Regions from separate parts of the Homo sapiens genome. Here region 2 is linked to region 1. The links come from fine-mapping of genetic effects on gene expression. A gene starts in region 1. The other region holds a variant in brackets. All regions are shown on one strand. Distances are between the middles of the regions. Region 1 holds the start of INTS1 (integrator complex subunit 1). Region 2 overlaps MAD1L1 (mitotic arrest deficient 1 like 1).

Evidence for each region.
Region 2: its variant is fine-mapped to the expression of INTS1 in monocytes after interferon gamma (Fairfax 2014, PIP 0.95).

Annotation. Positions count from the first base shown.
Region 1 is chr7:1,496,804-1,512,710 of GRCh38, forward strand. INTS1 (integrator complex subunit 1) reads right to left here and starts at 7,586. Exons shown (of 48, transcript NM_001080453.3): 1 at 7,520-7,586; 2 at 7,100-7,198; 3 at 6,098-6,388; 4 at 3,367-3,563; 5 at 3,081-3,218; 6 at 2,670-2,829; 7 at 2,452-2,557; 8 at 2,172-2,358; 9 at 1,904-2,049; 10 at 1,609-1,750; 11 at 335-511. The coding sequence starts at 7,157. RefSeq lists silencers at 7,232-7,791, 14,031-14,080 and enhancers at 8,678-9,274, 8,900-9,089, 9,275-9,870.
Region 2 is chr7:1,820,483-1,836,389 of GRCh38, forward strand. All of the region lies in intron 18 of MAD1L1 (mitotic arrest deficient 1 like 1), which reads right to left. Among named protein-coding and RNA genes, the nearest start is that of MIR4655, 16 kb to the right of the region's middle. The variant CCTG/C (reference allele first, on the strand shown) is at 7,244.

The DNA.
Region 1 (15,907 bases):
CCCTCGAAAAGTCTCCAACCCAGCCAGGCAGCCCGCAGCCCCACCCTGCCTCCCTGCTCCCGTGCTCCCCTTGCTGCCGGCAGCAATTCATCCCATCCAGCCTAGGGGTTGCCAGTTCCCCTGTGCTTGGTCAGCCCCTCATAGGTCCTCACACAGGACAGAGCCTATGCTACCCTCTGGGACGCGTCACCGCAAACAGCCTCACTCATCCCCGTACCCACGCTCAGCCAGAGCATCCGAAGGGGTGGAGTGTGCATGGGACCCAGGACGAGGGGGATGGCGGCGCGTGGAACCCGCAGTGAGGGAAAGGCGCCCCAGCGGCGAGGGCTGGCACCTTGAACTCCATCTCCAGGTACTGCGGCTCCTTGCGCTCCTGCATGAGCCCCAGGCAGAAGGCCTGGAAGTTGATCTCGTGCTTGGTCTGCTTGATGATCTCCCGCAGCAGGGCCCGCGAGGCCCGCAGGTAGTCGTCCTTGTTGGTCAGCAGGTCCTGGAACACCATGGCCAGGAACTGGGGCAGAGAGAGGCCGCGTGGGAGGCTGCCCGACAGTGCTGTCCCTGTCACAGGCCCCTTCCCGCAGCACCAACAGGTATGGCGCCCGAGGGCGCTGCAGTGGGTCTCAGACAGTGTGGGGTGCGGGGTGGCGGGCTCCTTGCTCTACTGGCTGCCAGCCCTTGGCGAGCAGGGATCACATCTGATTCCCCTCTCTGAGAACCGGCAGGTGGGGAGTCGGTCCTCGTGAAATGAGGAGGATTAATTAACGGAAGCTGGGGGTGCGGGACACCAGGCGGCAAAGCCATAGAAGCGCGTGTGCCATCTCAGCCCACCCGTGCGCCACGGGCTGAACGGAAACCAAAGGCCACCACCCAAGATCTGAAAGGATCTGAAAGGACGCACTCCTGTCTCAAAATGCCAGGCCGCGAAGACTGAACGCGGAGCTGAGAGCGGCTGTGCCTCCCTCGTGTTTCACACTCCATAGAGCCCACCGGGAGGCCTAATGCGCTGGTGGCGATGGGAGCATCTCCCGAGCCCGCTTCAAAGGAGACACGGAAATCCAAGGGTCCTACAGCCAGGGCTACAGGGACCCCTGCTTAACCGAGGGACCCAATGCACAGGAGGCGGGTCTGGGCCAGGCACAGGGGCTCATGCCTGTCATCCCAGCACTTTGGGAGGTTGAGGCAGGAGGATCGCTTGAGCCCAGGAGTTTGAGACCAGCCTGGGCCACATAATAAGACCCGGTCTCCACAAAATTTTTAAAAACTACCTTACTATCCAAAGGCAGGAATGAGCTTGAAAAATAAAAACAGAAGGCAACAGGTCTGGGTCTTAGCTCAGAAACCTGGGTGGCTTTTAAGACTCAATGTGGCTCCCTCCTAAATGGACAGAGTGTCAGTTTCTGAGAAAGACGCTGGGCGCTGTGGCTGCACCCACTCTAGAAACGGCTCAACCTCATGCCCACGTGAGTTTCAAAAGCTCCTTCCCGAGACCGAGGAGCATTCTCCCACGAAGCACTGCCAATCCACCGGCCTCCCCAGACGCCACGTGCCCCTCCAGCCCAGAGCCCCATATTCCGGCGTGGAGGGCAAGGCCAGGGACCCTGGGCCTACCTTGGGCGCCAGCTCTGAGCTGTGCTGCAGTGCGGTATAGAGGACCTGCATGTTGTTCGGGTTCCGGGCGCTGGAGAGCTCATTGAAGATCACCAACTTGATGGTGGTGCCCAGGTTGTCCTTGTGCGCGCTCAGCAGCTCCCTGGGTGAGGTGAGGGTACAGACCCTGTCCCCGCTACGCCTGTGCCCCCACTCCGCCTGTGCCCCCACTCCGCCCGCACCCCCGCTCCGCCCACACCCCCACCCACACCCCCACTCCACCCGCACCCCCGCTCTGCCCCGGCTCGCCACGCACCTGATGCACAGCATGAAGTGGTTGAGGAGGACCTTGGGCTTGAGGCGGATCTTGATCAGGTGTGAGATGACGTCCATGTCTTCGGAACCGTGCGTGTTGCAGTTCATGCAGACGGACATCAGCAGGTCCTGGGCCGGCCGGGTCAGCTGCGGGGCCGAGGAGGGAGCAGTGGGCTCACGGCCACCCCGGCAGGAAGACCACGCTGTGGGGCCACACAGAGCCTGCCCCCACCCCCTGCCCCGCCCACCCCCCCGGGGCGCCCCCGCACCTTGGGGTTCTGCAGCCACATCTCCAGCTTCTGCACCGCCAGCAGCCGCACCTCCTTATAGCCGCAGGTGGAGGTGAGGAGCCGCAGGAGGTTCCTGGAGACGTTGTCGATGGGCTGGCGCCGGTTCAGCTGGTCCCGCAGCATGTCCAGGACATACTCCTCCACGCTCTCCGCGAGCTCTTCGTACCTAGGCCAGAGGAGGGAGCGAGGAGGGAGGAAGGTGGCCCCGAGGCGCCCGCCCCCGCCGCCCCCAACTGGGACCGGGCAGGCACGCAGCTACCTGGGCATGAGCTGGCCCTCCTGCTCGGGGCTCAGCTTCTCCTCCGCGATCAGCAACTCCGTCTGGCTGTCCTCCTCCTCCGTGAGGGAGGGGTGTGGGCTGCTCCCTGCAAACCAAGGAGAGGGCTCCATGCAGCGCCTCCCACCCGCCCATCCTCCCACCCCTCCCCTGCCCTGGGGCTTGGACACCCGCCCTCTCTGGCTGGCCGTGTGTCTCACCTGCACCCAGGTCGCCCGCAACGCGGCCCGCCTCCCCCTGCAGCAGCACGCTCCTGGGGGGCATTCTGGTGTTGAAGGCCGTCTGGATGTTGTCCACAAACGTCTTACAGTGAGGGCTGTCCACCCAGATCCGCTCCCCCAGGGAGTCCTCGATGTACACCTGTGTGGCAGCCACACCCTCAGCCCCGAGCCCAGCCGGGCAGCAGCCAGGTTGGGGAACACCCGCCTGCTGCCCGGGGACTGGGTGCCCAGGCGGCCCTCTCCAGCTTCTGGGTGCAGCAGGGACCGTGCCATCACCACCAGGGCTGTCAGACACAGCCCTCTGGAGAGAACACACTTCTGCTTTTCTCTCGCCCCTGCCCCACCCCGTGGCGCTCTGCCATCTTCACCGTCCCGGGAGAGGACGCTCACCTTGACAAAGATCTCGGGCCAGTTCTCGTCCTCCTCGTAGGCGGCCATGAGGAGGTTACAGGCCAGCACAGACACCAGGCTGTTCCCCTTGGCCTTGAAGTTGATGGAGGCGTCCCGCCGCAGGAGGCTACACAGAGCCTGCCAGGGAGGGCGCATGTCACGTGGGAGCTTCGCTGGCCCCAGAGGCAAAGCTGGGGTGGGCCGGGAGGGACACTTAAGGGGGAGGTGAGGAGGGGAGCCAAGGGCCCCAGCGCTGCTCGCCTCCTGCCAGGGGCCCGGCTCAAACCTCAATGACGCCCTCAGTGGCGAAGATGTTGGGCTTGATCTTGGCCAGGTACATGAGGCTCAGGTAGAGGGTGCTGTCAGGCTTGGCGCGGGTGACCTTCAGCTGCTTCACGGCCCCGCACAGCACGCCCTCGATCCTGTCATCGTTGCCCTCCAGCTCGGCCGCCTCGATCTCATCCAGCAGCACCGTGGGCAGCACTGGCCGGGGCAGGCGGTACGGTCAGAACGGGGCCAGGGCAGGGTCACCCCAAAGCCTCGGGACACCGGGAAGACCACGAGGAACCCAGAGCTCTCAGGGTCGGCCCTGCCAGGGACCAGCGATCCACCCTCAGCAAAGTTCCCACAGCGGACAAGCACCCCACCAGATGGTCCCCTTAATACAACAGGCTGCCCCACAGGCCTCAGCACTAGCCCACCAGCCACTCCAGTCCTGGCTCCGCTGTGTCCCACACGACTACCCCAAAGGCTACAGACATTTCCCAGCAAGCCAGGCCACCTGCAGCTTTACTTTCCACTGAATCGTGGCTCCGTCTGGCGGCTTCTTTCTCACTGTGGACCGCAGCACAGTGGCCCTCTCTCCGCACCCACCCCAGCTCCAGTCTCCAGCATGCCCTTCTTCCCACTTTTCCTCCCTCTTTCCATGGGTGCTCGGCTCACAACCTTCCTCCAGACGAGTGCCTGACCCTCCCACATCCTCTGAGGAGCACCAGGGCCAGCACACACCTTTCCTATCGTCGTGTTTGCCACTGTTGGATCGGAGGTTTTCTCATTTTCATTCTGATTCTTCTCTGTCCCAACAGTTTTTTAGGACTGTGTTTTTAAATATCCACAAACGGCCAGGTGCAGTGGCTAGCACCTGTAATCCCACCACTTTGGGAGGCTGAGGCAGGTGGATCACCTGAGGTCAGGAAATCGAGACCAGCCTGGCCAATACAGTGAAACCCTGTCTCTACTAGAAATACACAAATTAGCCAGGCGTGGTGGTGCATGCCTGTAATCCCAGCTGCTTGGGAGGCTAAGGCAGGAGAATCATGTGAACCCGGGAGGCGGAGGCTGAAGTGAGCCGAGATCGTGCCACTGCATTCCAGCCTGGGGAACACAGCGAGACTCTGTCTCAAAAAAAAATAAATAAATAAATAAATAATAAATAATAAGTAAATACATATCCACACACATGTGGACAGAGGCATTGTGATCTACCTTAACTGCGCCCGGGACAGAGACTTGGAATAAATTTCCTGATGCCGAGACAAGCTGGGGGACAAGTGGGCTGCCAGCATGGAGGGACAGCCTGGGACATTTACCACAAATGGCTGGATGCAGCCATCTCTCTGTTTTGCTGAGAATAATACTATAAAGTGATCTACCACTCAGAATACGCTTTTCATAACCACGTCTCCTCTCATCTTCAAAACCTCCTTTCTACAGGAGGTAGTGCTAAAGATAAATAAAGCACCGAGCCGCCGGCGGCCGAGAGCCCGGGCCAGGATGAGGCCTGTGGTCTCTGTCTTCAATCCCCACCGGCACCAGCTGCCCAGGGACACGCCTCATGGGAGGTCTGAGGCTCGACCTCCTAAAGCAGTCCCCCAGCTGTGCCATCCTGGGCCGTTTGCCCCCAGGGCTCCCTGATGCCAACTGAGTCCAGCACAAACACTGCCCACAGCGCCCAGCCTCAGCTCTCATGAGCGTGTGCTGCCCAGGCCAGGCCAGGCCTCCATTCCCTGGGCACAGTCCATTCTCTGCTTGGCATCTCCCTTTCCTGCCTGCCCCGGTTTCATCGCCTGTGCTTCCAGGCCCAAGCCCATACTGCAACTCCCTGCCAGGCCTCCTCCCTTCCAGGGCCGTCGGGGACTCACTCACAGGCTTGCACTGCAGCAGCCTGGTCCCTCCCTGAGGGCAAGGCCACAGCCCACAAGTCCCCTGGGTCCTGTCTGGCACAAAACTCAGTAACCAGAGGTGGCGCGGCTTGAACAGACACCTCACTACCAAAGTCATCAGGACACTTGTTCTTTTTGACTCCTACAAAGAAATTACCCAAAAGAGATGCTCCCACAGAAACAAAACACTGCAGACCATGAGGCTTGCTGGGGCTGGTGCGATAGCTGCCAGAGCGACTCCCAGGGAGTCACGGAGCCTTGAGAAATGGTCGTTGGGAAAATGGCGCAGAGGGGCAGGGGCGATTCTAGGCACACAGTTAAAGGCATTTCTGCGAGAACGGGACAGTGGTGAAGCTTACATTCCCCCGTTGATGTCCTTACTGTTCTGCTGCTTTTCAACTGAAAACAGGGAGGGGATCAACTCTTCTCTGTTGGTAACCAGGAGGGAAGGAGGAACCAAGTACACATCGCCTCCGCTCAGGTTGAGAGAGGAACGCACCAGGATGGGCAACCTTGAGAACAGACACCTGGGGTGTCGTCACGCCCGGTTTACCCCCAGGGCTCAGACAGTGCCCGTCACAAAGGGGGCGTCCAACAGACACATGAGACAAACAACTCAATAAGGGAGTGACCCGGTTCTCAAAGGGCAGCCACTGGCAGTGCAGGACGCAGATGCACACACGGGATAAGGGCATCTACGTGAGAAGCACTTCCAAGAACAAGCCACAAACATCCGCTCTCCCAAAGGACCTCGGCCATACGGGCAGCACTAGGCCTGGAGGGGGCCTTCCCTGAACACCTGATGGACGGCATGAGCTGAGGGGTGTTCTCGGGGGATGTCCACAGACTCATTACCTTCAATTGGCACCACAGATGGCTCTTTAATCGACGGAGAAATGGCTCGTTTTTCTGCCACTGCAGCCTCAGCCAGGCGCCCCAGGGCACTCAGAGGGGGTGTGGAGGAGAGTTTGGGGCGTTTGGTGAGACCGGTGAGGGCCGAGGCACTGGACAACGCGGCCGCCGCATCCCGCTTGCGCTCAGAAGGCAGGCCGGAAGGGGCTGGCTTCAGCAGGGTGGACGCCGTTTTCGATTCATTGGCCTGACCCTTTGAGCCCAGAGCAATGAAGTCTCCTGGGGGAGGGTGCCCTGCAGAGAAAGGAGAGAGAAAACCGGGCACATTTGCAACACCCAAGATGGAAAAAGACTGACTCTAACCTCCTGTTATGTCAGAGGGGATTAAACAAGGGTCAGAGGAGGCAAGGAAGAAGCCAGAGCTCACTCAGCAGCCTACAGCAGAGCTGGGACCAGCAGGATACGCACAGGTGATGGTGGACAGTCACGTAGCGCTAACCACAAACCAGGCCATCTCTGGTCTATCCAAATTAGTGTGCTTAGTAACCCCCGCCCCGAGTTTCCGCAATAGGTGCTATTACTCTAACTTTACAAGAGAGAAAGGGACACAGAGAGGTTAAGCGACGTGCCCAGCGTCACACAGCAGGCGAGTGGCAAAGTCCGGAGGATCTGAGCCGACAGTTCAGCCGCAGACCCCGTGCTACGCTACACTGTGCTGCCTCCCGCCTCCTGGCTGGGGAGACCTTCCGCTACTGTCGGCCGCCTTGCAGCTCAGCCTGAAACGAGATCACCGGGGTCCCGAAGGAAGTCGCCACTGTCCCAAGCCTCCCAGGGACTCTCAGAGCCGCTGAGGACCGAGAGCAGTGTTTCCAGACCGAATTCCTGGAAACAGCCGCGGCTGCGGAACAACCAAGCCCAACGCAGGATCCGCGGCAGCTGAGATCCCCAAAGACCCCCAAAGACCCCCAAAGACCCCCGGGCTGCAGAGCGAGGAGGGAGACGCACCTGAGGGTTTGGCCGCGGCGCTGGGCCGGCGCACCGTGGTGGGCTTGGCCCGGTTCATCCTGCCCCGTCCCTCGCGGCTCCCGGCGGCTGCGGCGTCACCTGCGGAGGAGCCAGCGTGCGGTCATTCCTTCACTCATTCGCTCGTTCGCTCGCTCATTCGCTCCCTTGCCGCACGGGGCTTGGGCCTGGGACCCGGGGACAGTGGTCCCGCGCCCGCCCGGCGGGGCGATGCTGCAGGAGCTGCAGGGACCCCGCCTCCCAGCCGCCCGGGAGCGGCTCAGTCGGGCGGCAGCAGGCGACGCGGACGCCGGGCTGGAGGCGGCAGAACCAGAAGGGACGGCCCAGAGGCCGGGAGCGGTAGCCGGGAGAACCAGGCGCTCGCCCGGCAATGAGGAAGCGCCCAGGCCGCGGCTCACTTACCTCTGGCCCATCGCGACCGGAGCGCCGCCGCCGCCACCCGGCCACCCCGGAATCGGAAACCGATCTCACCGCCCTCGAGGACCCGACTTCCGGAACAACCGGAAGGAAAACAGTGCGGCGGGAAGCGGGCCCAGAAGGAGGCGCGAGAGGCCCGCGGCGCCGGCCTGATGCCTGCAGCGCCCCATGGCGGCGGGAGGCGGGCTGGCCGGCGCCGCGCGCATGTGGTCCGGTCCAGGTGGGTCGGCGGCGCGGGGCAGGCGCTGGCCTCTCCATTCACAGGTGGTGCTGGCGTTGCGAAGGGACGCACTCCAGGACGCACGGCGGGGAGGAGTGGCGTCAGGGATCCGCGGATGAGTCAAGTGGCAGGTTCTGCACGTCCCGGAGAGCGGGGGCGGCCGGGGCGCAGGCACTGGCGAGGGGGCGCAGCCCGGGGGGCTCCCGGGGAGAGACCCTGTCTCAAATAATAATAATAATAATAATAATAGCTTTATTGAGATAGAACTCGTGTTCCACAAAGTTCACCCTTTTCTTTTTTCTTTTTTTTTTTGGCACGGAGTCTCGCTCTGTCGCCCAGGCTGGAATGCAGTGGCGCGACCTCGGCTTATTGCAACCTCCACCTCCCAGGTTCAAGCGATTCTCCTGCCTCAGTCTCCCGAGTAGCTGGGATTACAGGCGCCCGCCACCATGTCTGGCTAATTTTTTTGTGTTTTTAGTAGAGACGGGGTTTCACCATGTTGGCCAGGCTGGTCTCGAACTCCTGACCTCAGGTGGTCCGCCCGCCTTGGCCTCCCAAAGTGCTGGAATTACTGCGCCCGCCCCGCCCCCACGCCTTTTTTTTTTTTTTTTTAATGGAAACACTGATGGGAACAAAACTCAAAAGACACAAAAGATCATACAGTTGCCAGGTGTGATGCTCATGCCTGTAATCTCAGCACTTTGGGAGACCAAGGCAGGAGGATCGGTTGAGTTCGAGACCAGCCTGAGCAACATAGCAAGACCCCCATCTCTACAAAAAAATAAAAATTAGCTGGGCATGGTGGCATGAACCTCTAATCCCAGCCCTTTGGGAGGCCAAAGTGGGAGTCTGAGACCAGCCTGGGCAACATAGTGAGACCCTATCTCTACAAACAAAAATCAAGAATAAATTAGCCAGGCATGGTGGTGCATGCCTACGGTCCCAGCTACTGAGGAGGCTGAGGTAGGAGGATCTCTTCAGCTTGGGAGGTCAAGGCTGCAGTAAGCTATGATGGTGCCACTACGCTGCAGCCGGCCGACAGAGCGAGACCCTGTCTAAAAAAAAATAAAAATAAAAGGTGGGGGAATCATCCAGTCAAAGGGTCGAAGGTCTCCCCTGACCCCTGAGCAGCTGGTCCCCTCCCCTGGAGTCAGCCTGTGTTCTGATTTGTGCCTGTGTTCCCGGCTTTTCCGTGTGCGTTCAGGCAGCCACCCGTGTGCCTCCCTCTGCCTTGTCACCCTGCAGGTAGCGCACGGCTCCTCTTTTCTGCACCTGGCTTTTGCCACTTAACCACATCTTGGAGATCTGTTCCCAGCAGGGCACTGACTCGAACGCTGCCCCGCCACCGAGGGAGTCCTGAGCACCGCCTGCCCGGTGTGTCCCATCTCCTCATCCAGGGACCGCAAGGCAGAGCTGGTCTCCCTGTGCCCCTGAAGTTGGGTGTGGCCATTTGACTGTGGCCTCAGTGAGGCTCATGGCCCCAGGCTGCAGCCTGAGAACTGCTGTGTGACCCGCCACGGTCTCTTTCCACTCCTGTGGGCACCAGCTGGGTCCCCGCAGGACCCCAAGGGCTCCAGGGCCCTGCACCCTGCGCTGTGTGGGCAGCGAGTCCGGAAGGAGACGTCCGTGGTGCCCATGGGAGGAGAGGCCGGTCAGGCGCGGATCCCTGCCGGACGCCAGGCGGGGGCTGTGCGGCTTCATCCCTCTACAGTTTCTCAATCTGTCCCTCAGGGTAACTCTCTAAGGGGAGGGGAGATCCGATGGGGTAATGCTTCCTCCTCCTGTCACCTGAATGGGAGCACCCTGCACAGAGCTTCCTCTGCCCCGCCACCTGCCTCTCCTCATCCTCTGACCAGCATCACCGCCCCTGCATGCGGGGCCTGTGCCTTCGGCAAATGCCCTCACCCGGGCCCAGGCCAGAACCTCAGGGTCGACCTTGAGAACAACTACCTCCTCCTCCCCCTCCCCCTCCCCCTCCCCCTCCTCCTCCCCCTCCTCCCCTTCCTTCTTCTCCCCCTCCTCCCCCTCCCCCCTCCTCTCCTCCTCCCCCTCCCCCTCCCCTCCTTCCCCTCCCCCTCCTCCCCCTCCCCCCTCCCCTTCGTTCCCCTTCTTCTCCTCCTCCCCCTCCTCCCCTCCTCCCCCTCCTCCTCCTCCTCCTCCTCCTCCTCCTGTCAACCTTGACCACCTCTTCCCCCTTCTCTCTCCTCCTGCTCCTCGTCTTCCTCGTTCTCTAAAAACTCAGGAGTCAACCTTGACCACCTCCTCCTCCCTCTTCTCTTTCTCCTCCGTCTCCTTCCCCTCTTCCTCTTCCTCCCCCTCCTCTACCTCTTTGCCTTCCTCCTCCCTCTCCCCGCCTCTTTTTGAAAACAGCTTTTTTGAGTTATGATTGACGTCTGATAAACTGCAGGTGTGTAAAGGGTGTAAAGGGTGCACACTGATGCGTGTTGACATTCACACGTACCTGTGGCCCCATCCCCCATCCCTTTCAACCCTGTAACGAACATTCCCAAACCACCCCTGACTTGTCCCCAGGCCGCCAGGGCGCCACTTTCTGTCCCTGGAGAGGCGCTGTTTGCTCTTCTGGAGTCTGTGTGAATGAAAGCACACAGTGCACGCTCCCTGGCCAGCTGCTCGGCGTCATTATTCTTTTTTTTTTTTTGAGATGGAATCTCGTTCTGTCACCCAGGCTGGAGTGCAGTGGCGCGATCTCCGTTCACTGCAACCTCTGCCTCCTGGGTTCACGCCATTCTCCTGCCTCAGCCTCCCGAGTAGCTGGGACTACAGGCGCTGGCCACCACGCCCGGCTAATTTTTTTTTTTTTTTGTATTTTTAGTAGAGGCGGGATTTCACCGTGTTAGCCACAACGGTCTTGATCTCCTGACCTCGTGATCCTCCCGCCTCGGCTTCCCAAAGTGCTGGGATTACAGGCGTGAGCCACCGCGCCCGGCCTGGCATCATTATTCTGAGACTTACCCCAGCGTTGCAGGCATCGGTGGCTTCTGTCAGCTGCTGAGTAGCACCCGCCAGATGGATTCCAGATTCCAAGGATGGCTTCTCCACTGATGGCCCGGGCAGGACCACAGGCGTTCCGTCATCCTGGGGGGGTGTGCAGGGTCTGCCCTGTGCTCTTCATCGGCGTCTCCCTGATGAGTAATGATGAGCGTTTTCTCATCTTTTTTTGTCATCCGTGTATCTGCATTATTGGTGTCTGTTCAAATTGTTTGCTCACTTTTTGAAAATATTTTTTATGGCCAGGCGCGATGGCTCACGCCTGTAATCCCAGCACTTTGGGAAGCCGAGGCGGGTGGATCACCTGAGGTCAGGAGTTCAAGACCAGCCTGCCCAACATGGTGGAACCCGGTCTCTACAAAAATACAAAAATTAGCCGGGCATGGTAGCAGACACCTGTAATCCAGCTACTTGGGAGGCTGAGGCAGGAGAATCACTTGAACGTGGGAGGCGGAGGTTGCAGTGAACCAAGATCATGCCATTGCCCTCCAGCCTGGGCGACAAGAGTGAGACTCTGTCTCAAAAAAAAAAAAATTATTAGAAATTTAATTTTTAGGCCGGGTGCCGTGGCTTTTAATCCCAGCACTTTGGGAGGCTGAGGCAGGCGGATCACCTGAGATCAGGAGTTTGAGACCAGCTTGGCCAACATAGTAAACCCCATGTCTACTAAAAATACAAAAATTAGCCAGGCGTGGTGGCGGGTGCCTTTAGTCCCAGCTACTTGGGAGGCTGAGGCAGGAGAATCACTTGAACCCAGGAGGTGGAGGTGGCAGTGAGCCAAGATCGTACCACTGCACTCCAGTCTGGCCAACAGAGCGAGATTCCATCTCAAAAAAAACAAAAAAACAAAAAGATATAATCAAATGTTCCTCCCCTGCTCAGAATTCTCCAAAGACTCTGCTTATCACCCGAACAGTAAAATGAACACCTGTGGTTGTTTCCCACAGCAGCTCTTAACAAAGCACCACAGACTCGGTGGCTTAAAGCCACAGAAATGTCCTCTCTTGCAGTTCTGGAGCCCAGAAGTCTGAAGTCAAAGTGTGGGCAGGGCTGACTCCCTCGGAGGGCTCTAGGGGAGGACGCTGCCTACCTCGACCAGCTCCTGGGGACTCCAGGGGTCCTCGGCTCGTGGCCACATCCCTCCAGCCTCTGCCTCTGACTCCATGTGGCCGTCTTCTCTCTGTGTCTCTGTGCCTCGTGAGGACATCTGTTAAGGGATTTAGGGCCCACCCAGATCAAGGATGATCTCATCTCAAGATCTTTACCTTCATTAGGCCTGTGCGGTGGCTCACGCCTGTCATCCCAGCACTTGGGGAGGTTGAGGCGGGCGGATTGCTTGAGGTCAGGAGTTCGAGACCAGCCTGGCCAACATGGCGAAACCTTGCCTTTACTAAAAATAGAAAAAAATTATCCAAGGCCGGGCGCAGTGGCTCACACCTGTAATCCCAGCACTTTGGGAGGCTGAGGCGGGCGGATCACGAGGTCAGGAGATCGAGACCATCCTGGATAACACAGTGAAACCCCATCTCTACTAAAAATACAAAAAAATAGCCGGGCGTGGTGGCAGGTGCCTGTAGTCCCAGCTACTCCGGAGGCTGAGGCACGAGAATCACTTGAACCTGAGAGATGGAGGCTGCAGCGAGCCAAGATCGCACCATTGCACTCCAGCCTAGGCGACAGAGCAAGACTCCATCTCAAAAAAAATAAAATAAAAAAATAAGTTTATATCTGCAAAGACCTTGTTTGCAAATAAGCTCCCATCCTGTGGCTCCGGTGGACGTGGGCTATGGGGCCACTGTTCGCCCCGTCCCAGCCCCACGCCGAGGACTGCCGGGTCCTGCAGGGTCTACATCTCCGTCTCACCTCCCCCGATGCCGCCCCACCCCGCACCTCAGCCTTCTCACTGTTTCCGGAAGGTGCCTGCCTTTCCATGCGCTGTTTCCTGTGCCCAGAAACCCCCCAGCTGGTCCTGGGACTCCCTGTCCACCCCATTCTGGTCTTTGCTCAAGTGGCCTCCTTCTCTGGTCAGTCACTGATGCCCCAGTCCCCTGCACCTGGATGTCACCTTCATGTCTTTTTTTTTTTTTTTTTTTTTTGAGACGGAGTCTCACTCTGCCACCCAGGCTGGAGTGCAGTGGTTCAATCTCAGACCACTGCAACCTCCGCCTCTGGGGTTCAAGCGATTCTCCTGCCTCAGCCTCCCAAGTAGCTGGGATTACAGGCACCTGCCACCACGCCTGGCTTTTTTTTTTTTTTTTCTGAGAGTCTTGCTCTGTCGCCCAGGCTGGAGTGCAGTGGTGTGATCTCTGCCCATTGCAACCTCCACCTCCTGGGTTCAAGCAATTCTGCCTCAGCCCCCATCAGGAGCTGGGATTGCAGGCGCCTGCCACCATGCCCAGCTAATTTTTGTATTTTTAGTAGACATGGGGTTTCACCATGCTGGCCAGGCTGGTCTCAAACCCCTGACCTCAGGTGATCTGCCTGCCTCGGCCTCCCAAAGTGCTGGGATTACAGGCGTGAGCCACCACGTTCAGCCACATCCAGCTAATTTTTATATTTTTAGTAGAGATGGGGTTTTGCCATGTTGGCCAGGCTGGTCTTGAACTCTTGACCTCCGGTGATCCACCCACCTCGACCTCCCAAAGTGCTGGGATTATAGGCATGAGCCACCGCGCCTGGCCCTTCCTTCATGTCTTTTAAAAAAATGTTTTAGAAACGGGGTCTTGCTCTGTTACCCAGCTGGAATGCAGTGGTGTGATCATGGTTTACTGCAGCCTCAAATTCCTGGGCTCAAGCGATCCTCCTGCCTCAGCCTCCCAAGTAGCTGGGACCACAGGTGCACGCCCACCCCTGGCTGGTCTTTTCCCTGCCTTCCTGCCTGACAGAGCCACCAGCAGAGCCTGATCTGCCCAGTCCCCTGCTGGGTCCAGGGTGGCTCGCCATGTTCAGTGAGAGCCCGTGGACAGGTAAGTGATAACTGTGAATTCTCTGGGGGGAGGAAGCCAGTGCTAAAAGCCTAGGCTGTTAGGAGAGCTGGGCCTCAGCCTGGAGGGACGCCGTCGGGCAGGCAAGCCCAAGCCTCTGACTCCCACCATCCCGGGGTCCTCTTTGCTGTGACCCCAGAGTGCAGTGAGTACCAAAGGTGACCCTGTCCTAGCAGGACCCAACCTCGTGACCTGATCAGTGTGGCAGGTTTGGGCTCCAGGGCACCACTGCGGCCCCCCAAGACCCACCAGCACCAGGGGCTGGGGGCGGCTGGCAGGGTGGGGGCAGGGGGAGCAGAGGCCCGGGTCGGGCCCGAGGGGAGACGGGTGCGGTGGGCAGCCTGCAGCTGCGTGTGGTTTAACTGCCTCGTGCCAGGAAGCAGCTGCCGCTCTCTGTGCAGCCTGGGCCTAGACCGGGGGCTCCAGCCTCCCTTCCTGGACCAAGCGTACCCAGCGCAGACCAGGCCTGGCCTTCCCGTTACACACAGGGGCCCTTGTGGGGAACCTGCGGCTCTTCTCAAGTGACCCCCATCCTGGGGGCCCAGCCCCGGCTCCTCCCTGAACCTCCCTGAAGCCTTCCTTCCCCATCCACCCCCAGGCTAGCCCCTGCTAGGAACCTGGGCGCCCACTTTCTCTACCACCCCCTGGCTGGAACCCCAACCTTGTATGGGGCTCCCATAGGGTGCAGCCCCAAAGACAGACCCACGTCCAGAATTCCAGGTATCCCAAGGACCGGTCAGGCCACTGGCCACTACACTGAGACTCGGGACAGCTGGCCAACCTGGTGAGAGCTCAGCCTTCACTGGCCACCGCACTGAGACTCAGGATGGCTGGTTTCCTCGGGGAGAGCTCAGACCTCGCTGGGCACCACATTGAAACTCAGGACGGCTGGTCTACTGGGGAGAGCTTGGACCTCGCTGACCACTGTGCCGTGACTCAGGGTACCTGGTCTACCGGGGAAGAGCTCAGACCCTTTGGCTTCAAAGAGCGGGGGCCAGTCCCGGTTCCACCCCCAGGCTGCACAGGAGAGAGGTGAACCAACAAAGAGAATCGGGAGCCGTGAGGAAGGGGAAGGACTCTGGGAGGCCCATACCCCCAACATGTCTCCTGTGACCTGCTTCGGATCTCAGGCCCTCCCCACTTCTCTCCTCCCGCAGTGAAAACCACCCCTGCTGGGTCTGCCCGCCTGTCCTCTGGGCCCACCCCTCAAACCTCCGGCTTCCATTGCCCCTTCCCCAGATTGTGCACTCACGGCCCCTTCTTTGTGGGCTCCCTCCCAGGGCCCCTCAGGCCAGCTCCAGGGTCTCCTATAACACAAACATGCCCCTCTCTGCCTCAGTTTCCTTCCCGGGTCCAAGCCCCCGGCCTCCCCACTTTGAGTCCCAGAGCCCCAAGCTTTGTCTCCACAACTCCACTTCCCCGCCGTCCACACGCCTCTCCACTCGCTCCAGCGCCAGGCGCTTCCCTGAAACAGGCGCCGCTCTGAGGACCTCAGTGGCTCCCCCCGGAGTGCCCGGTCCTGTGGCCACACAGAGCACCAGTGCTTTGTGCCTTTGGTCTCCGTGACATGGCGGTCCTGATTCTCTTTTTTTAAATTTAGAGACAGGCTCTGACTCTGTTGCCCAGGCTGGAGTGCAGTGGGATGATCACAGCTCACTGCAGCCTTGACCTCCTGGGCTCACGTGATCCTCCCACCCCCACCTCCTGAGCCACTAGAACTACAGGCGTGTACCACCATGCCTGGCTAATCTTTGTATTTTTTGGTAGAGTCAACGTCTCACTATGTTGCCCAGGCTGGTCTTGAACTCCTGGGCTTAAGCGATCCACCTGCCTTGGCCTCCCAAAGTGCTGGGATTACAGGAGTGAGCCACCGCACCCAGCCCAAGTGCCATTTCTGTTTTTTTGAGACAGGGTCTCACCCTGTCGCCCAGGCTGGAGTGCAGTGGTGCAATCTCGGCTCACCGCAACCTCTGCCTCCTGGGTTTAAACGATTCTCCCACCTCAACCTCCCGAGTAGCTGGGACTACAGGCGCGCACCACCACGCCCGGCTAATTTTTGTGATTTTAGTAGAGGTGGGGTTTCACCATATTGGCCAGGCTGGTCTCAAACTCCTGGCCTCAAGTGATTCACCAGCCTCGGCCTCCCAAAGTGCTGAGATT
Region 2 (15,907 bases), 320 kb after region 1:
GCCGGCCAGGAGCAGGGCTCACACCTGTAATCTTTGCACTTTGGGAGGCCAAGGTGAGAGGATCACTTGAGCCCTGGAGTTTGAGACCAGCCTGGACAACACAGTGAGACCCCATCCCTATAATCAATCAGCCAGGTGTGGTGGCATACACCTGTAGCCCCAGGTATGTGGGATCACGTGGGCCTAGGAGTTTGAGGCTGTAGTGAGCTATGATCACACCACTGCACTCCAGCCTGGGCAACAGAGTGAAACCCTGTCTCAAAAATTTGTTAGAAAGACCAGCAACGATAAATTGATAAACCCCTGGCAAAACTGACAAAGATTAAAAAGGGGGAACGCCTGTAATCCCAGCACTTTGGGAGGCCGAGGTGGGCGGATCACGAGGTCAGGAGATCAAGACCATCCTGGCTAACACAGTGAAACCCCATCTCTACTAAAAATACAAAAAATTAGCCGGGTGTGGTGGCGGGTGCCTGTAGTCCCAGCTCCTTGGGAGGCTGAGGCAGGAGAATGGCATGAACCCAGGAGGCGGAGCTTGCAGTGAGCCGAGATCGTGCCACTGCACTCCAGCCTGAGCAACACAGCGAGACTCCATCTCAAAAAAAAAAAAAGGGGGGGGGGAGAGTGAAATGACCAATATCAGAAATGAAATGGAAATATTATAATAGATCCAGAAGCTATTAAAATAACAATAAAAAATACTACAACAAAACTTGATGCTCATAACAAACTGGATGGATTCCTCGAAAACCACATACTACCAAAACGTGCCAAGATAAAATAGCCTCGGTAGTCCTATAACCATTAAATAAATCAAGTTTGTTCTAATTAAAATGCTACTCAAAATCTCCAGTCCCAGATGGTTTCACTAGAAAGTTTTACCGAACATTAAATATGAATTAATACCAATTTTACACAATCCTTTTTCAGTTAACAAAAGACAGAGAAACACCTTTCCACTATGAACCCTGTACTGAAACCAACAAGGATGGTGCGCACACAAAGAAAAATAAGTATCAGTCTCTCATGAGCTTAGCTGCAAAAATACTCAACAAGGACTAACAAATGGAATCCAGCAACACACGAAAAAGAGTATCACACCCTGACCAAGTGGGATTCAGTTTAGGTGTACAACGACGGCTAGTTCAAATTTGAAAATCAATCAATGTTATCCACCCTATCAACAGGCTAAAGGAAGACAATGATATGATCCTATTGGCACAGGCAAAGCATTTGAAAAAATTTAATCTCCATTCCTGACAAGAACTCTTGCAAAGCAGGAATCAAGGGAAAGTCCTCCGACTTGGTAAAAAGCACCACGAAGAACCCTCAGCTCACGCTGCTTCACGGAAGAGTCTGGCCGCCTTCCCTCATTCGGTCAGCGGAGAGCTGGCTTTCCCCACTCATCCTCAACCCAGCATGGGAGCTCCTCACGCCAGGGCATGCAGGTAAGAAAAGGAAAGCAGCAGCATAGGGATTGGAAAAGAACAGAACTGTCCCTACTCGGAAATCACATGACGGCACACGTGGAAAACCCTAAGCAATCTGCAGAAAACTCCTAGAATGACGTGACGGCCCACGTGGAAAATCCTGAGCAATCTGCAGAAAACTCCTGGAACACTAAGTGAGTCCACGAAGGTTGCAGGAAATAAGATGAACATACAAAAATTAACCACATTTCTATAAAGCAATTGCAAACAAGTGAAAAACAAAATTAAAAGGCAATATAATTTACAGAACATCTTAAATACTCGGGTATACATCTAACAAAAACTTGTATAGTGTCTGTTTGCAGAAAGTTAGGAAATACTGATGAAAGGAATCGAAAGGAATAAAAAGAATGTTTGTATAAATAGATACAATGTTTATGAACTGGAAGACTTATAGTAAATCAATTTTTCCAAAATTGATCTTTGGTTTTAAGGTAATTGCTGTCCAAACCTCAGCATATATATATATATTTTTTTTTTTTTTTTGGAAAGAGGGTCTTATTCTGTCACCCAGGCTGGAGTGCAGTGGTGTGGTCTTGGCTCACTGCAGCCTCAGGCAATCTTCCTGCCTCAACGTGCCAAGTAGCTGTAACTACAGGTGCGCACCACCACTCATGGCTGTATTTTTTTCATAGAGATGGGGTCTCCCTGTGTTGCCCAGGCTGGTCTCCCAACTCCTGGGCTCAAGCGATCCTTTTGCCTTGGCTTCCCCAAGTGTTGGGATTACAGGCGTGAGCCACCATGCCCGGCCAGCATTTTTTTTTTTTTTTTTTGGTAGAGAGACACAAGATTATTCTAAAATGTATATAGAAAGCAATTCCAAAAAAGAAGAGTAGAGGAATTGCCCTTCCTGATGTTGAGAACCGTACAGCTACAGCACAGCGTTATACGGCTCCTACGTCAGACAGACATGGCTGGGGCAGCGCTGGAGGGGAGATGTGGAGACCAGCAGAACAGAACAGAGGAACTCGAAAGAGACCCACAGACGCGTCCAGGCCACTTTCTAACAGAGAATATTATGCCGTGACCAAGTGGGACTTCGTTTAGGTGTACGAGGCTAGCTTGGTATTTGAAAATCAATCAATGTAATCTGCTATATCAACAGGCTAAAGAATAAACAACATATGACCCTATTAATCGATACGGAAAAGTCACAGAAAAGTCACAAAGGCGCTTCAGTGGAGGAAGGGCAGCCTTGTCTTTGCTACAGCTGGAGCCGGAGGAGCTGGACACACTTAGTTAAAAAAAAATTTTTTTGACCGAAACCTCACATCTCAAATAAAATTTAACTCAAACTGTATCACGAACTTACATGTAAAACACAGAATTATGTTAAAAAAGAAATCTTCAGGATCTGGATGAGGCAGAGCTCTGACACTCAACACCAAAGCACAATCCACAGAATAAAATTAAAATGGATAAATGGGCCTCGCCAAAATTTTAGGAAATTGCACAGTGGAAGAGCCTGTGAAGCAGATACAAGGATAAGCTACACGACAGGGCGCCAGCGTCTCCCTGCCCATCTCTCCTAGAACGCCACGGCCACAGGGGACCCTGGCACCTGGAGGGGTGACTGCAGCGTCTTAACCCCAAGTGGGATTCCTGCCTGTGCCCTGGCCCCACAGGGCAAGGCCCACATCTGTCTTGCTTCTCTCTTTTCCCAGAACAGACCTCACCAGGCTGGAGAGTGGCCTGGGCACAGAGGCCGGGCCTGTGGCATCAGCGGCCATCGTGAGGGCAGAGCGCCCAGGCATTCTCAGACACACCCCTGCTCCCACTGGCCTTCCTGGGAGAAGCACCCCCTTGTTCCAGATGAGAAGCCGCAGCTGCTGGGCCGGGGGAGGCATGAATATTTCATGCTTGGATCTGCAAGCGCCACGCACCTAACTGGACACAGCTCCAGGCGCCTGCTTCCCTGAAGCCCAATCCTCCTGTCATTGGTGTGCTGCAAGCGCCGCTCCGGAGCAGGGCTCTGTGTGGGGAGAGGAAAGGAGCCCTCGGGGGAAGTTATGCTGGGAGCCCATTTGTGGGGGGACGGAGAGCGGGAAGCAAGGTCCATGAGGATGGGGTGTCCTGCAGCTGGGTCCTGACCGGGGGCTGCTCCCTCTCCTGGGCCTAGGCACTGCAGGAAAATGGCAGGTAGTCAGCCTGCCACCACCTCCCGGCCACCAGCACACACCCTCAACAGACCTTCCAGATAGACGGCTCAATCCTGACTTGAGCACTGCCGGCCCCAACGCCTCCCCTCTTACACCACCTGCTTGTGCGGGCCTGGTGGCAGAGCTGCCGACATCGGGGGCTTTCGCACCCACCAGAACTAGCTTCTAACCTCGGCTTGGCCACCAGGAAGCTGCGTGACCCTGGGCACACCGACACACCTCTCTTGAGCCTGGTCTGCACGCTGGGCATTGCCGAGAAGACTAACGAAGTCAGGTGCGTAAAATCACCGGGCTCAGGGGAGACACAGAGCACAGTGGGATGAGGAAACCCTGTGCCCACGTTACCCCGGGCCATGAGGACAGCAGCTGCCCCGTGCCCTGGCGCCATCGGATGGCCTCTACTGGGAAGTGAGCTGCTCCCGGCCTTGTCCCCACCTCGCTGCAGCAGGACTGGTTGTCTGCCAGGCCCCGGAGCCCCCAGGCTTCCCACAGAGGCTCCCCCACCAGGACCCGCGGGAGAGGAGAGGGGCGTGCCTGGATGGCATCTGCCGGGGCAGCCATAGGTCCCTGTGAACCTCGCTTGTAGAATACACCTGCTCTCAAAGCCAGCGAAGGGGAGATTTTTTTTTGTCTTGAGGCTGTCAGGAAATCAAAGTGTTTTCAACTTCAAAAGACTCTCCGGGCGTCTCAAGTTGAGAATCTGACGCGTCCCAGGCACTTTCATGCACACATGGGGCGAGCCGGGGAGAAGACTCAGCAGCGTCCGCCGAGAGTCAGCCCTGAACTTCAGGGGTGAGAAAACCCTTCAAGTTCACACTGCAGCACGACACACACTCTCACACCCACACTCACAGAGTGCAAAAGGACTCTTAGAAAATCAAAATGTTAATGGCGGTTAACTCGGAGTGCTGGGACGGAAAGTGACTCATGGTTCTCTGCATTTTCCAGATTTTTTTATATGCTGCATATTTGTAATTAGGAAAAATGTATATCTAAATTATATCTGCAAGAGCGGAACAGCTTCAAGACAGGCCGCTGAGCACACGGGTTCCCCACTGCGGACACATGCAAGCCCCAATCCTTATCCACCTGGCCTGCAACCCTCGGGCGTCTTGCTCATCTGCCCGTCTGCCTGGAGTGTCTCCAGACACTCTGTGGGAGGCCCCTCTGTGGGCTGCTGAGGCCGGTGCTGCCCACCCACCTGCCCCAGATGTCCTGGGCCTGGGGTGCCAGGCTGGCGTCATGGCTGGCATCTTGGCTGGTGGCACCACAGACGCCAGGCGTGGGTCACAGCGTGAGCCCAGCCAGCTGGTTGGGGTGGGTGGCGCTGGTCAGGTGGCCACAGCAGAGTCCGCTGAGGCTACCTGTCATAGGGCTGCTGCTGAGGTGTGAGAGACACGGGCCCAAGCCCCTCGGCACCCAGCGGCCAGGGCACCCAGGTTGGGCTTGTGCAAATCCCAGGTGGGGCACAGCTCTGTCCACGGGTCTTTGCGGTGCCCGTCTGAGCGCCTGTGAACAGTGCTGGGCAGTCTCACCATGCACACAGCTCTGCACGAGCCTCCACGGCCAGGGCTGCCCTCCCTTCCCTAAAACGTCTCAGGGGCTGAAGGCCTTGGACCATGGCATCAGGGTCCAGAGGTGATAAACCTGGGTAATGTGTGCTCTCATCCCAGCAGGTGCTGCTGGGGGTTAGAGGTCAGCACAGTCCCAGCCCCGGGGTTGGAGGTCAGCATAGTCCCAGCCCTGGGATGAGCACAGTCCCAGCCCCAGGGTTGGCGGTCGGCACAGTCCCAGCCCCAGGCGGGGTTGGAGGCCAGCACGGTCCCAGCCCCAGGGTTGGAGGTCGGCGCGGCCCCAGCTTGGCTTCATGACCTCGGCAGCAGTGATCTGTATCCCAAAGTTCAGGCGTGATAACGTCAAGACCGTGCTGAGCCTGCCGGGTACAGCGTGAAAATGGCTGGTGCTACCGTGGTCTACGCAACCTGTTAGACCGGGATACCGAGGACTCCTGGCAGCCTCACAACTCACAGCTGGGCTCTGCACAGGAGTCTCAGGTGCTGTGGGGCCAGCCTGCCTGCTGCACATCCACGGCCCGAAGGTGATCCAGGAGCAGCAGCCACCACCGAGCCCTGACAGTCACTGCCTGGCCCGTCCGCGCTCTGAGGAGGGAGAGAGCAAGCTTCTCGCTGCTGGTGTATTACCTCGGCCGAGGGCCTCCTCCTCCAGGCTGGCCACAGGACTTGTTACAGCCTATGCCTGACTCCCCCGCTCATGGCCTCACTCCCTCATGGATGCCCATGGCCGGCCCAGCCCCACCCTGCACAAGCCCTCCAGCTCCAGGCCCAGCCCAGCTCAGCTCCGCGGAGCTCCTGGTCCAGAGGTCCAGGTTTGACCCCAGGACACCCTGCTGTGTGCACGACCCTCAGCTCCCACCCCTCTCTGCCCCACTGTCCCTCCGGCGTCCCTCGGGGGAGACGACACAGCCGGGCCCAAAAGAGGCCTCGCAGATGCTGCCGCGTGAGCACCGCGCTGAGGGCCTGGCGGCAACTGGGTCAGGACAGCTTGGACAGAACGCCGAGAACAAATGTCCCGGCATGAAGTTCCAAAGAACGGAAGCTGGCAAAAAGTGTGTCCGGCACGGGGAAAATAGCTCAGCCAATTATTCCTGCCTAATTGTACCGAGGAAAGCATCTAAATACTGCCTGTGCTAATTATACCAGCGTTATTGGGGTTTATCTTCCCGGCGAGGGTGACCTTTCCTTCAAGAGTGACTGGCGGGGCGGGCAAGGCCAGGCACCCCAGCAGTCGCAGAAAAATCCCAAACCAACAATTATTATTATTATTATTCTATTTATACAGCTCCCCCTCGCACACGGGCGTTCTGCTTTACAGCCACACGCAGCTGCTCCTGCAGCCGCAGCCGGAGGGGAGCCGAGGGAGTGGGGGCGCCGGCTCGGGGTGGGGCGGCCTGCGCAGCCCCTGCTGTGAGTGGCATCCGCCACGGGCGGCTCCAAGGGCCGTGGAAGGGCATGGAGGCCACAGGGATGAGTTAGAGGAGGTGGCGGGGATGGAGAAGGTGGGAGAAGGGGCTGAGTGTGGGTTAAAAGACAGGGACTGGCCCCGAGGGCAGCAGGAGCACAGAACACAATGAAGGTTAAGGGAAGAAAGGGGACGCAGCGGGCAGGGAGGACAGGTGCTCAGATCAGGCACACGGGTGAGGAGGGAGGAGCTGCAGCACAGCCCTCGCCCAGTGGCTCCCTGAGCCCCGCCCAGGTGTGGGGTCCTCCCCTCCTGAGCCCGTCGCGGGTGTGGGGTCCTCCCCTCCTGAGCCCGTCGCGGGTGTGGGGGCCTCCCCTCCTGAGCCCGTCCCGGGTGTGGGGTCCTCCCCTCCTGAGCCCGTCCCGGGTGTGGGGGCCTCCCCTCCTGAGCCCGTCCCGGGTGTGGCATCCTCCCCTCCTGAGCCCGTCCCGGGTGTGGGGTCCTCCCCTCCTGAGCCCCGCCCGGGTGTGGGGGCCTCCCCTCCTGAGCCCGGCCCGGGTGTGGGGGCCTCCCCTCCTGAGCCCGTCCCGGGTGTGGGGGCCTCCCCTCCTGAGC[CCTG/C]CGTGGCTGTGGGGTCCTCCCCTCCTGAGCCCGTCCCGGGTGTGGGGTCCTCCCCTCCTGAGCCCGTCCCGGGTGTGGGGTCCTCCCCTCCTGGGCCCGGGCTAGACAGCACCACCCTTTCCAGATGTAGCCGAATGAGAACAGGAGAGGACGTCAGCGGCCTCTGCGCCTTCTCACCTCCCACCCAGGCGAGGCCCATGCTGCTGGCAGTGACGTTTCGTGGAGCGCCACGCTTAGGGCAATGTGATGCTGGGGATGCGGGGTGAGGAGGGCCGGAGATGCAGGCCCGCCCTCCTGTGAGGCTGCCCCTCTTATGTGCTGTGGGCCCCGGGGCCCATCAGTTTGTCTCTCTGAGCTGAAGTTTCCTGAATGTAAAATGGAGACAAAATGCCTATTTTCCCACCTCAGAGGGCGGCCGGCAGCTTCCGGCCGAGACAGAGCCACAAGGACAGATGCACCTGCCATCTGAAACAGCCAGAATATGAGGCATCAAATGTGAAACAACAGTTTTCAGTCAGGAAGGGTGGCGGGCCCTGAGAGACGGGGCGAGCCTGGGGAGACAGTCACAGCCCAGGCAGGGCCTCGCGGGACCCGAGTTGAGGGACAGGGCTGGAGCTGGAGCCAGGGCGCCGAAAAGAGTGCCACAGAGGAGGGCTGAGTTCGCTGGAGTGCTCAGTGAGAGGCTGAGAAAACCTGGAGCATTAGAGAGAAAAACCCAGAAAATGGCACCCGAAGCTCACACTGGGCTGGACCAGTGCCTGTCTCCGGCAGCCTCGCGGGAAAGCCTGCGAACTAGGCGGCTCCAGGGCACAGCACTGAGATGGACACCCCGCAGCAAGGGGCGGTGTGAGCCCCAGACAGACGCTGCCCTGCTCCCACCTCACATTTCCTAAACCGAGACCCAGAGAACCAGGCTGTTTCCAAGTACCTGAACTGTGTCTCCGAACAGAGCTCACGAATATTTATAGGAACACACACACACGTGCATGCACAGGCACACGCACACATGCACACACAGCCTCGCAGCACTCAACAAAGAGAAAATCAGCTGAGTGAAACAGACCTAGGGCTGACCTGACGTCAGAAGCGGCAGATCACATTAAGTCACTGTAACTTTGCTCCATATGCCCAAAAAATTGAGGATAGACATAAAAGGGACAAAAAAGAGCCAAATTGACCTTCTAAGGATGAAGACAACAAGTACGGGGGACGGATCCATGCCAGATCAGACATGGCGAAAACAGGATCAGTGAAGCTGCAGATACAACCACGGAAACCGTCCGAGATGAAACAGATGAGAAAAAGAAAGAAAAGCGCATACAAACAAAAAGGAAAAAACGGAAAGACAGACATAAAGGAGGCAGCACATTGGGCGTGGGCTGTGGGGCGACGTCACATGGCCTGACACGTAGGGCAGGAGTCCTGGAGGCAGGCTGGTGGCACTTCTGAAATGGCTCCTGATGGTCCCCACCTCCAGGCACCACCCGCATCAGCGCCAGCCCTTCAGCGTGACTTACAGCGGATGCAAAGTGGGGCGCAAGTGCTGGCTTCCCCTCTGCAGTCACGTCACAGCAGCCGTGACTTCTGCGGCTCCCACCCTGGTTCTCAGAGCTCTGACCCGCCAGCTGCCATGCGTGAGCGGCCCACACGGCGAGGAGCTGCCATAGGACCAAGCGCGGCAGCCCAACCACGGATAGAAGCAGAATCCTTCCGACGGCCACATGGGTGTACCTGGACGTGGGACCTTCCCCAGCAGAGCCAAGAGGACTGTGGCTGGTGAGGTCTCTGAGCAGAGAGCCAGCTCAGCCACACTTGGATTCCTGACCCCAGAAGCCACGAGCCAGTGAGTTCTGCAGCGATGTTATTCAAGGACTGGTTGCCAGTGGTGGGGACAGCAAAGAGTCTTGAAAAAGTAGTGGCCCCAATTTTCTGAAATGTGTGGAAAAGTGTAAACTGAGAGATCTGAGAAGTTCAAAGAACCCCAACCACCAAAAAAAAAAAAAAAGGCAGGGGGAGGAAACAACATTAAAGTACACAAAGTACATCATAATCAAACTGCTCAAAACCAGTAGTACAGATGAAATCTTAAAAGCAGTCAGAGGAAGAAATGACAACTGACCGACAGAGGAACAAAGATGAGAATGACAGCAGACTTCTCAGAGGAAATACTGGAATTAAGAAGACAGTGAGATCACCTCTGTAAAGTACAGAAAGACAAAGCCCAGAATTCTCCACCCAGTGGAAATATCTCCCCCCAAATAAAGACTTCTTCAGGTGTGCAAGAGCTTAAAATATCCCAAAAAGCAGCTGATTCACACTGCAAGAATATTAAAGGAAGCCCTTCAGACAGAAGGAAAATGAGGATGCAAACAGGGGCTTACACAACAGGCCAGGCCGGTGGCTCACGCCTGTAATCCCAGCACTGTGGGAGGCCGAGGTGGGAGGATCACCTGAGGTCAGGAGTTCAAGACCAGCCTGGCCAACATGGTGAAACCCTGTTTCTACTAAAAATACAAAAATTGGCCACGTGCAGTGGCACATCCCTGTAATCCCAGCTACTCGGGAGGCTGAGGCAGGAGAATCGCTTTAACCTGGGAGGCGGAGGTTGCAGTGAGCCGAGATCGTGCCACTGCACTCCAGCCTGGGCGACAGAGTGAGACTCTGTCTCAAAAAAAATAAATAAAAATAAAAACAAACATGGGCCTACACAAGAAGAAGGAAGAACAGCTCTACTCCTTCCATGAATGAGGGGTGGGAGCTGCATGGGCAGACATATACAACATTTACAATTATTATTTACATCTCTTTCAAAGATAGCTGACTAAACAGAAATAAAAACAAAGTATTGTGGGGTTTATCATGTGCATAAATAAAATATATTATAAGCAGATGACTAAGGCAGGAAGGAGAAGACTGGAAGTATGTGACTGTCAGGTTCTCACACTACACATAAGGCGGTGTCGTATCATTCGAGGATGACTGTTAAAGATCTACGTGCCCTAAATCCTAACACAACCTGTAAAAAATACAGTTAACAAATCAAAAAAGGAGGCACATGAACTTGTAAAAAATTCAATCCAAGAAAGGCAGAAAAAGAGGGAAGAAAAAAGAACAAAGGACAGACAGGACAAACAGAAAACAAATAACAAGATGATAGACTTATCTAATCAAAGTAGTAATCAATTTAAATGTAAATGGCCCAGTGAAAAGGCAGAGAATGTCAGATTCTATGCATATTTAAGACTCAGCTATATCCTGCTTTTAAGAAGCACATTTTAACTATGAAGACGCAGTAGATTAAAAGTAACGTGAAGCAGATACAGCGTGCTCACAGAAGCCAATTCGCCCTGTGTTCACATGAGCACACCTCGCTTCATCCGTGGCCTGACTGTGCCTCACAGACACTGCATTTTTTACAAGTTTAAGGTCTGTGTCTGGCAAGTCTATTGGCACTATTTTTCCAAAAGCGTGGATTCACTTCATGTCTGTGTCGTATATATTTCCAACTTTTTCATTACTAGTATATCTTTTATGGTACTCTGTCATCTGTGATCTTTGATGTCACCATTGTAATGGTTTCGGAGCTCCACAAACAGTGCCCATAAGAGAGCAAACTTAACTGATAAATGTGTGTGTTCTGACTGCTCCACTGACCAGCCATCCCCCATCTCTCTCCTTCTCCTTAGGCCTCCCCATTTCCTGAGACACGACCGTCACAACAATATTGAAACCAGGCCCATTAATAACCCTAGAATGGCTTCTAGGTGTTCAAGTGAAAGAAGACTCACATGTCTCTCACTTTAAATCAAAAGCTAGAGATAATTAGGTTTAGTGAGGAAGGCATGTTGAAAACTGAGGCCAAAAGCTAGGTCTCTTGCACCACACAGCTAGCCTGCAAAGGAGAAGTTCGTAAAGGAAATCACAAGGGCTATTCCAACGAACACATGAATGATAAGAAAGCAGAACAGGCTTACTGCTAATATGGAGACGGTAAATGAGCTCTTGGGGCCCTTAAGAATGATGCTAAGTCTTCTCTGTCTGTGCTCTATCAGTGGAACAACAAAGCCTGGATGACAGCACATCTGTTCAAACGTAGCACAGTGCACTGAATATTTTAAGCCCACTGTTGAGACCTCCTGCTCAGAAAACAAAATTCCTTTCAAAATATTATTGCTCACTGACAATGCAACTAGTTACTGGGCTCTGATGGAGATGAACGTTGTTTCTATGACTGCTAACACAGCATCCATCCTGTGGCCCCTAGATCAAGGGACAATTGACTTTCAAGTGTTATTATTTAAGAAATACATTTTCTAAGGCTATAGTTGTCACAGAGTGCTTCCTCTAATGAATCTGGGCAAAGTCAACTGAAAACCTTCTGGAAAGGAGCTGTCATTCTAGATGCCATTAAGAACATCAGTGATTTATGAGAGGAGGTCAAAGTATCACCATTAACAGGAGTTTGCAGAAGTTGGTTCCAACCCTCATGGATGACTTGGTTCAAGAAGAGGTCAGTGGAGGAAGATGGACAGATGTGGTGAAAATAGCAAGAGAATTAGAATTAGAAGCAGAGCCTGAAGATGTGACTAAACTGCTGCAATCTCATGATCAAGCTTGAATGGATGAGGAGCTGCTGCTTATGAATGAACAAAGAAAGTGGTTTCTTGAGATGGAATCTGCTCCTGGTGAAAATGCTGTGAACATTGTTGAAAAATGACAGCAAAGTACATCAACTTAGTTGATAAAGCAGTTTGAGGGGTTGAGAGGCTTGGCTCCAAGATAGAAAGAAGTTCTACTGTAGGTAAAATGGTTTTAGAGAGCATTGCATGCTACAGAGAAATCTTTCATGAAAGGAAGAGTCAATCAATGTGGCCAGCTTCATTGCTGTGTTTTTTTTTTTTTGGCGGGGGGGGGGGGGGTGGGGATGGAGTCGTGCTCTGTTGCCCAGGCTGGAGTGCAGTGATGTGATCTCAGCTCACTGCAACCTCCACCTCCCAGGTTCAAGCGATTTTCATGCCTCAGCCTCCCAAGTAGCTGGGATTACAGGTACGTGCCACCATGCCCGGCTAATTTTTGTGTTTGTAGTAGAGACAGGGTTTCACCATGTTGGCCAGGCTGGTCTCGAACTACTGGCCTCAAGTGATCCACTTGCCTCAGCCTCCCAAAGTGCTGGGATTACAGGCTTGAGCCACAGCACCCAGCCCACTGGTGTTTTTAAGAAACTGTCACAGCCACCCCAACCTTCAGCAACCACCACCCTGATCTGTCAGCAGCCATCACCATCAAAGCAAGAACCTCCACCAGCAAAGAGATTACAACTGGCTAAAGGTTCGGGTGATCATTAGCATTTTTAAGCAATAAAGTATTTTTAAAATCAGAACATGTACATTGTTTTTTAAAGACATAATGCTATTGTACACTTGACAGACTATAGCATAGGATAAACATAACTTTTATATGCACTGGGAAACAAAATGCATGGCACTTGCTTTATTGTGATATTGGTTTAATCACAGTGATCTGGAACCAAATGCGTGATATACCCAAGGTTGCTTACTGACAGTGCAACTCTGTATCAAACAAAGCAGATTTCAGAGCAAAGAATATTACTAGCAATAAAGGTCATTTCATAATGATAAAAGCGTCCATTTATATATGAAACAAAAACTGGAATGCAAGAAGGAATAGAGAAATCTGTAATAATAGTCAGAGATGTCAATATTCATCTATCAATAACTGATAGAACAGGAAGACAGAAAATTGGCAAGGATATAAAAGCTTCGCAAACATTATTAAAAATGTCAGCTACTTGACATCGATATAGCACATTCCAGCAGGATACAGGATACACACAGATTTCAAGTACACACACAACATTTACCAAGGCAGTAACATTCTGGATGGACCTTAAAACAAATTTCAAGAAATGTGACCAGATGCAGTGGCTCACGCCTGTAATCCCAGCACTTTGGGAGGCCGAGGCAGGTGGATCACCTGAGATCAGGAGTTCGAGACCAGCCTGGCCAACATGGTGAAACCCCCTCTCTACTAAAAATACAAAAATTAGCCAGGCGTGGTGGCACGTGCCTGTAATCCCAGTTACTCGGGAGGCTGAGGTAGGAGGCAGGAGAATCACTTGAACCTGGAAGGCAGAGGTTGCAGTGAGCTGAGATTGCGCCATGCACTCCAGCCTGGGTGACAGAATGAGACTCCGTCTCCAAAAAAAGTAGAAGGATTTAGACCGTTCCGAGAATGTTCTCTGACAATAATGAAATTAAATGAGAAATTAGTAACAGAACGGCATCTGGAGATTTTCAAAAAATGTGGAAACTAACACACTTCTAAATAACCCATACGTCAAAGAAGAAATCAAAAGGGAGGTTAGTTAAGTCATTTGAACTGAATGAAGATAAAAACAAAATATCAGAATTTGTGGGATGCCACTAGAGCAGAAACTAGGGGGAAACTTATAGCACTGAATGTCCACATTAAAAAAAAGAAGGTCTCAAATCAGAGACTTCAGCTTCGACCTTAAGGAACTAAAGAAGGGCAAATTAGACAAAGTAAGCAGAAGAAAGAAAATAAAGATCAAAGCAACAATGGTGAAAGAAAACAAAAAAGCAGTAGAAATAATAAAACCCAAAGCTGTTTCTAGCCAGACTGACCTGGAATAAAAGAGAAGAGACAAATTATTAACATCAGGAAGAAGAGGGATGATAGCACTACAGATCCTACAGATGTTAAAAGGATAGTAAGAGAAATTATGAACAACTTTATGCCAATACCTTTGAAAACAGATAAAATGGACAAACTTCTGAAGATACAAACTACTAAAGCTCACCACAAAAGAAAAAGACAATGTGAATAACTCTATGTCTATCAAGACACCGATGTGTAGTTAAAACCTCAGGAAGAAAACTTCAAGGTTCAATGGGTTTACCGATGAATTGGATCAACTATTTAAAAAAGAAATAATATCAATTCTACATTAACTCTTTTCTTCCAGTTTGTTTTAATCAAGAATTCTACATGAACTCTTTAAGAAAACTGAAGAGGAGGAATGCTTTCCAACTCACTCTGTGAGACCAACATTACTATGATATACAAATCAGAAGACATTACAAGCCGCACCCCCCCAAAACTATGGAACAACCCTAAGGAATATTTATGCAAAAATTCAAAACAAAACGGTTAGCAATTCACATCCAATAACATATAAAAAAAGATAATGTAGTATGACTAAGTGGGGTTTATCCTAAGAATACAAGGTTGGTTTAACCCTAGAAAATCAAAGTAATTCCACATATTAACAAAGTACAAAAGGAAAACCATATGATCAACTCAATAAATGCAGAAAAAGCATCTGATCAAACCCAACAGGCATTCCTCAAAAAAAAAAAAAAAATCTCAGCAAACTAGGATTAGAAGAGAACTTCCTCAGCCTGAGAAAGGGTATCTATGAATGACGTACAGAGAATACCACACTTAATGGCTGAAGATTGGATGCTTCTCCCTCAGATCTGAAACAGGACAAGGATGTTCACTCTCACTGCTTGTATTCAGCATCATCCTGAAGGTTCCAGCTAGTGAAATAACACAAGAACAAGGAACTTCACAAGCATCCAGTGTGGGCAAGTGGAAGTGCAAGTGTACTTACAGATAATATCATTGTCTAAGGAGAAAATCCCATCAGATATACTAAGAAGCTACTGGAACTAACACATGAGTTTAGCGAAGTTGCAAAATAAAAAGATCAATATACAAATGAATTGTTTTTATATAGTAGCAACAGAAATTAAATGTAAAAACAAAACTCTTTTATAATAATATCAAAATCTAAAATACTTGGGATAAATCTGAAAAAGATGTGAAATACCTATGTTATCAGGAAGGGGTCTCAATCTAGACCCCAAAAGAGGGTTCTTGGATCTCACACAAGAAAGAATTTGAGGTGAGTCCATACAGTGAAGTGAAAGCAAGTTTATTAGGAAAGTAAAGAAACAGAAGAATGGCTACTCCATAGGCAGAGCAGTGACGTGGGCTGCTCGACTAACACTTATACTGTATTTCTTGATTATATGCTAATGAAGGGGTGGATTATTCATGAGTTTTCCGGGAAAGGGGTAGGCAATTCCCAGAACTGAGGGTTCTTCCCCCTTTTAGACCATATAGGGGAAATTCCTGACATTGCCATGGCATTTGTAAGCTGTCATGGCACTGGTGGGAGTGTCGTGTCATATGCTAATGCATTATAATTACAGTATAATGAGCAGTGAGGATGACCAGAGGTCACTTTCTTTTTTCTTTTTTTAAGACGGAGTCTCACTCTGCCGCCCAGGCTGGAGTGCAGTGGCGCAATCTCAGCTCACCACAACCTCCGCCTCCTGGGTTCAAGCAATTCTCCTGCCTCAGCCTCCTGAGTAGCTGGGATTACAGGCATGCACCACCGTGCCCGGCTAATTTTTGTATTTTTAGTAGAGATGGGGTTTTACCATGTTGGTCAGGCTGTTCTTGAACTCCTGATCTCATGATCTGCCTGCCTCAGCCTCCCAAAGTGCTGGGATTACAGGCATGAGCCACCGTGCCTGGCTGACCAGAGGTCATTTTCATGGCTGTCTTGGTTTTGGTGGGTTTGGGGTCAGCTTCTTTACTGCAACCTGT